2 separate regions of the Homo sapiens genome follow, and region 1 is linked to region 2. Evidence: fine-mapped expression QTL. A gene starts in region 2. The other region holds a variant in brackets. All regions are shown on one strand. Distances are from middle to middle. Region 1 has its middle 5.9 kb from the start of E2F2. Region 2 holds the start of SRSF10 (serine and arginine rich splicing factor 10).

Evidence for each region.
Region 1: its variant is fine-mapped to the expression of SRSF10 in skeletal muscle (FUSION, PIP 0.95).

The regions. Positions count from the first base shown.
Region 1 is chr1:23,535,726-23,538,637 of GRCh38, reverse strand. No RefSeq gene overlaps it. Among named protein-coding and RNA genes, the nearest start is that of E2F2, 5.9 kb to the right of the region's middle. The variant G/CAG (reference allele first, on the strand shown) is at 1,565.
Region 2 is chr1:23,979,041-23,981,952 of GRCh38, reverse strand. SRSF10 (serine and arginine rich splicing factor 10) reads left to right here and starts at 1,626. Exons shown (of 6, transcript NM_054016.4): 1 at 1,626-1,762. The coding sequence starts at 1,698. RefSeq lists enhancers at 1,302-1,351, 418-1,408, 1,362-1,691, 2,122-2,171, 1,409-2,399.

The DNA of each region.
Region 1 (2,912 bases), 440 kb after region 2:
TGCCTATAATCCCAACACTTTGGGAGCCGAGGCAGGAGGATTACTTGAGCCCAGGAGTCCAAGACCAGACCACGGGATATAGTGAGACCCCCGTCACTATTAAGAAAAAAAAGGCTGGGCACGGTGGCTCACACCTGTAATCCCAGCACTTTGGGAGGCTGAGGTGGTGGATCACCATCACCTGAGGTCAGGAGTTTGAGGCCAGCCTGGCCAGCACGGTGAAACCCTGTCTCTACTAAAAATACAAAAATTCACCGGGCGTGGTGGCATGCACCTGTAGTCCCAGCTACTCGGGAGGCTGAGGCGGGAGAATGGTGTGAACCCAGGAGGCAGAGCTTGCAGTGAGCCGAGATCGCACCACTGCACTCCAGCCTGGATGACAGAGCGAGACTCCATCTCAAAAAAAAAAAAATTTTTTTTTCCTTTTTTTGGCTGAATAATATTCTATTATATAAATATACCACTTTTTTTTTGAGGCAGGGTCTTGCTCTGTCATCCAGGCTGGGATGCAGTGGCATGACTTCTGCCTCCCAGGTTCAAGCAATTCTCCCACCTCAGCCTCCCAAGTAGCTGGAACTACAGGTGCACGCCACCACACCCAGCTGATTTTTGTATTTTTTTTGTAGAGATGGGGTCTCACTGTGCTACCCAAGCTGGTCTCAAACTTCTGGGCTCAATTGATGCACCCGCCTTGGTCTCCCAAAGTGCTGGGATTACAGGCATGTGCCACTGTGCCTGGACTCCACATTTTGCTTATCCAATCATCAGTTAATGGGCATTTGGGTTGTTTCTACTTTCTGGTTATTATGGATAATGCTGCTATGAACATCTGTGTACACATTTTTGTGTGAACATATGTTTTCAATTCTCTTGGGTATATGGGAGTAGAATTGCTGAGTCATGTGGTTAACTCTGTATAACTTTTTTAAAAACTGCTGAACTATTTTCCAAAGCAGTTATACCCATTTACAATCCCACCAGCAATGAATGAGGGTTCCAATGTATGAGGGTTCTCCACATCCTGGACGACACTAGTTATTGTCTCTCTTTTCTATTATAACCATTCTAGTGGGTTAGTGAAGTGTCATCTCATTGTAGTTTTGATTTGCATTTCCCTAATGACTAATGATGTTGAGCATCTTTTCACGTGCTTATTGGCCTCTGTATATTTCCTGTTTTTTTTGAGACGGACTTTGGCTCTTGTCTCCCAGGCTGGAGTGCAATAGCACAATCTCGGCCCACTGCAACCTTTGCCTCCTGGGTTCAAGCGATTCTCCTGCATCAGCCTCCTGAGTAGCTGGTACTACAGGCGCCCGCCATCACGCCCAGCTAATTTTTGTATTTTTAGTAGAGTCAGGGTTTCACCATGTTAGCCAGGCTGGTCTCGAACGCCTGACCTCAGGTGATCCACCTGCCTCAGGCTCCCAAAGTGCTGGGATTACAAGTGTGTGAGCCACTGCGTCCGGCCTGGCCTCTGTATATTTTCTTTGAAGAGTTGTCCAACCAAATTGTTTGCCTTCTTAATAAATTTTGGTACACACACACACACACACACACACACACA[G/CAG]CACATTCACATCCCATCCCAGATTCACTTCAACGCAATAAACCCGAGACAGCTGTGATTAGCCCTGTTTATCAGATGAAGGAACAGAGGCCCAGAGTAATGCAATGATATGTCCAAGAGCACATAGCTTATGGAGTGCCAAGATTTAGAATTTTATGTTTTTTTCTTTATTTTTCTTTATTTTTATTTTTTTGAGACGGGTTCTCACTCTGTCTCCCAAGCTGGAGTGCAGTGGTGCAATCTTGGCTCACTGCAACCTCCGCTTCCTGGGTTCAAGCGATTCTCCTGCCTTAGCCTTCCGAGTAGCTGGAATTACAGGTGTGCACCACCACACCTAGCTAATTTTTATATTTTCAGTAGAGACAGGGTTTTTCCATGTTGGCCAGGCTGGTGTCGAACTCCTGGCCTCAACTGATCCACCCACCTCGGGCTCCCAAAGTGTTGGGATTACAGGCACGAACCACTGCACCTAGATTTTTTTTTTTTTTTTTTTTTTGAGACAGAGTCACTGTCGCCCAGGCTGGAGTGCAGTGTCGAGATCTCGGCTCACTGCAGGCTCCGCCCCTGGGTTCACGCCATTCTCCTGCCTCAGCCTCCCGAGTAGCTGGGACTACAGGCGCCTGCCATCTCGCCCGGCTAATTTTTTGTATTTTTAGTAGAGACGGGGTTTCACCGTGTTAGCCAGGATGGTCTCAATCTCCTGACCTCATGATCCGCCCGCCTCAGCCTCCCAAAGTGCTGAGATTACAGGCGTGAGCCACCGCGCCCGGCCTGCACCTAGAATTTTATGTATTTAACAAACATTCATATAGTGTTTACTACATGCCAGTCACTGTTAGAAAAGCCCACGAACCCATCTTCCAACAATGTTCCAGTAAAAAGGTTACCACTAGCAGAACTTCCTTAAAGCAATACCTTGTTTCTCTTTTTAAAAAACAACTTTTTTTTCTCCAATCACCAAAGTAATACATGTTTATTGTAGAATAGGAAAAGCACAAAGAAGATGGAGCAGGGATTTTTCTCCCTTGTTTCCCATAGCTCTGATCTGGTTTCTCTGTGATTTGGGATTCGTGTGAACAGGTGATGTGCTGAGGAGCCCGGGACAGGGAATATGTACCTTCAGGAAGTGTCTGTCAAGCAGTTTGTATTCTGATTAACAGGACTTTGAGCACAGGGAATCTGTGGAATTTTTCAGGAGAAGATACACCAGCTGGAATGGAAGTTTGCTTTAGTTTGGGGATTTTTCCAGGACTATCTGGGGTTGCCTGGAACAGGAACTTCCTCACTTACCTGCTCTGTGGCCTCAGGCAAGTCATGGCTTCCTCATCTGGAAAATAGTACTAAGCAT
Region 2 (2,912 bases):
ATTTTGGGGCCACCTTGCCTGGCCCAACATTTTAATAAATTAAGCATGCAAATCTTGGGAAACAAAAATTTAGAATAGCTCTGCTACAGAGTGCTACAAACTATCATCACCTGTATCGAATCACTTAATTGTCTTAGATGCTGATTGACACAAAAATAATGCCTTTATGACTTTTTATTAAATAAAAGTTCATTTAATTTAACAGTACTTGAGTCCCTGCTACCTGCTTGGCACTGTGCCACACGCTGGAGGCATTCCAACTGAAGTCTCTCATCTCCAGAAGTTGACTCTTATCGAGCAGGAAATGGCTCTCAAAAGGGCCTCCAAAATCAAAACCATACTAAAGATTATTTGCTATTTTCATGCTCATTCTCTTACAAACGTGGAGTTTTCCAGAGGGTACATGATGTGTGATAAAGGGTAGTGGAGTGTGTCAAAGTTTTCTCTATTTTTTTTTTTTTTCTTTTTTGAGACGGAGTCTCACCCTGTCGCCCAGGCTGGAATGCAGTGGTGCAATCTCGGCTCACTGCAACCTCTGCCTCCCGAGTTCAAGCGATTCTTCTGCCCCAGCCTCCCAAGTAGCTGGGATTACAGGCGCGCGCCACTACGCCTGGCTAATTTTTGTATTTTTAGTAGAGATGGGGTTTCACTGTGTTGGTCAGGCTGGTCTCAAACTCTTGACCTCGTGATCTGCCCGCCTCGGCCTCCCAAAGTACAGGGAGGGATTACAGGCGTGAGCCACCGAGCCCAGCCGAAGTTTCCTCTATTTTAAGTTCTCATTAACTATTTATTAATAGGTATAACCCACACTTTTTTTAAAAAAAGCTCTTTGGAATCTTCCGTAATACACAAGAATATAAAGGCGTTCTGAGACCAAAAAGTTTGAGAACTGCTGCAATACAGGTCCGATGCATACCCAGGAAGCCGTCAGCAACAAAGAATACACTACAAATGACCACAGTCATGAACCTACAGTGTGAGGTTTGGTCCCACCCAGGTTGGGAGCCAAATGCGTGACTAAGTGGAGATGGCTAGGGTGTGGGTGAGGGGCAAAGGCAGGCTGAAAACACTGGAGAGACAGGCCCAGCTCTGCGCAAGGGCACACACCTCCTTCCTTTACACACTCAATACAAGCTGTAAATCCTTCTTTCGCAGGTCAGGGCATAACCTGGACCAAACGGGAAATTTAAGGCAAAATAAAAGCAGGACATTAACTTGGACCAACCGGGAAATTTAAGGCAGCCTCTCTGAACTAAATAGTTTAAAAATCTGTCCATTTAGTAGTAACCGCAAAGTTTGGCCTAGAGACTAAAACATCTGCTTCCTGATTTGGGGGTGGAGATGAAGTGGAGTGTAAGGTAGAAAACGGCGGGAAATGAAGACCTAAAGAAAGAAAGAACAGGCTTGGGGGAGGGTAAGAGGCACCGCAAGAAGCCAACGAATGACACCGACGCTGAGGCGCGTGCGCCAGCCCTCCGCATGCGCAGGCGGACGCCTGGTGTTCTCGCGGGAAAGAACCGTTGCGCCCGACTTTGCGCGGAGGTAGGAGGGGGAAGTGGAGGCGGGAGTGAAGTCTCGCGAGAAGAGTCGGTTGCCGTAGCAGAGCCCTCTAGCTGTGTGTGTCTGAGGCTCGGCCGCCTGAGCCGCGGACGGTTTGCTGAGCCCGTTAGTGCGCCCGGCCGAGACACGCCGCCGCCATGTCCCGCTACCTGCGTCCCCCCAACACGTCTCTGTTCGTCAGGAACGTGGCCGACGACACCAGGTAGGTACAAGGCAGGTACTCCGGGCCTAGGCGGGGAGGCCGCAGGCGCCTGGAGAGGACCCTGGTGGTGGCGGCACTGGGCCGGGGGAGGGGACGGAGTGAAGATGGCGGGTCCCGCGCCCGCTTTGGCGCCGAACTAGGCCGCGCAGCGGGCCTCAGCCGCCGCGTGGGAGCGAGGGCGGCGCCTCTGCCTTCGCCGGGCCGCGTGGCGGGGTTTTTCGGTCCCCCTCCCCCTCCGCAGTTTGCAGCCCCTTTCTCCCTGCTTCCTGCCGGCGCGAGCAGCCCCCCGCCGCGGCCTTTCCGCGACCCGACGGCCGCCCCCCATTGATTTGAAGTTCACATTCTTCGAGGTTCACGCCCCCTTGGCCCAGAGATTTTTTTTTTTCCCCAGCCAAAAAATAGTGAGATGAAATAACGGGATCGAGGGAGAGGAATGTTGCTACCATTTATCTTTGTTGTTGTTGCCGTTGTTAATATTTGGGGGTTTTAATCAGTTGGAGGTGTTTGGAGAAAGGGAGCGTTGAGATTTGGGGAGTTAGATTTTTCCAGTTAAATGTTGCGAGTAGTTTTTCTTATTTCCTGGAAATTCTGGTCACCCTTTGAAAAGGGAGGTTTGGGAAGCGTCAGTCATTAGGACGTTGACAGCTAAGTTAGATTAATTCAGACGTACCTTAAATAGGCTTTGTTCTCACCATTCCCTTGTTTCGAGTTGCCTTCAGATTATTTTGGAAGAGTTCTTACTACAAGATGAGGCTTTTTATTTCACAAATAATGAATCTACACACAGAAAATAAGTGGTTTGGGTTTTTGGTGTTTCGTGGGGGTTTTTTGCTAGCTTTGTGATTTGCTTTTGTCTTAAATTTAAGAAGGAAAGAAAGCAATAATTCTTTCCATAAATAATTCTTTCCATAATTTCTAATAGTTACGTTAGCATCTAGAGAAATTTTCTCTTTACGTCATCTTGACACTTAACTATTTAAGAAGTTCGATATTTGTGACTTTTTCAGACCATATTTATCTACTGTTAAGTGTGTAAATCTGTCGCTAAAATTGGGGAGTAAAAATAAGTGCTTGGTATTTTTCAGAGTGCTAGAGTCGATTTGATGCTGTAAAAGTAAAAAAAAAAAAAAAAACAAGGCTTATATACAAC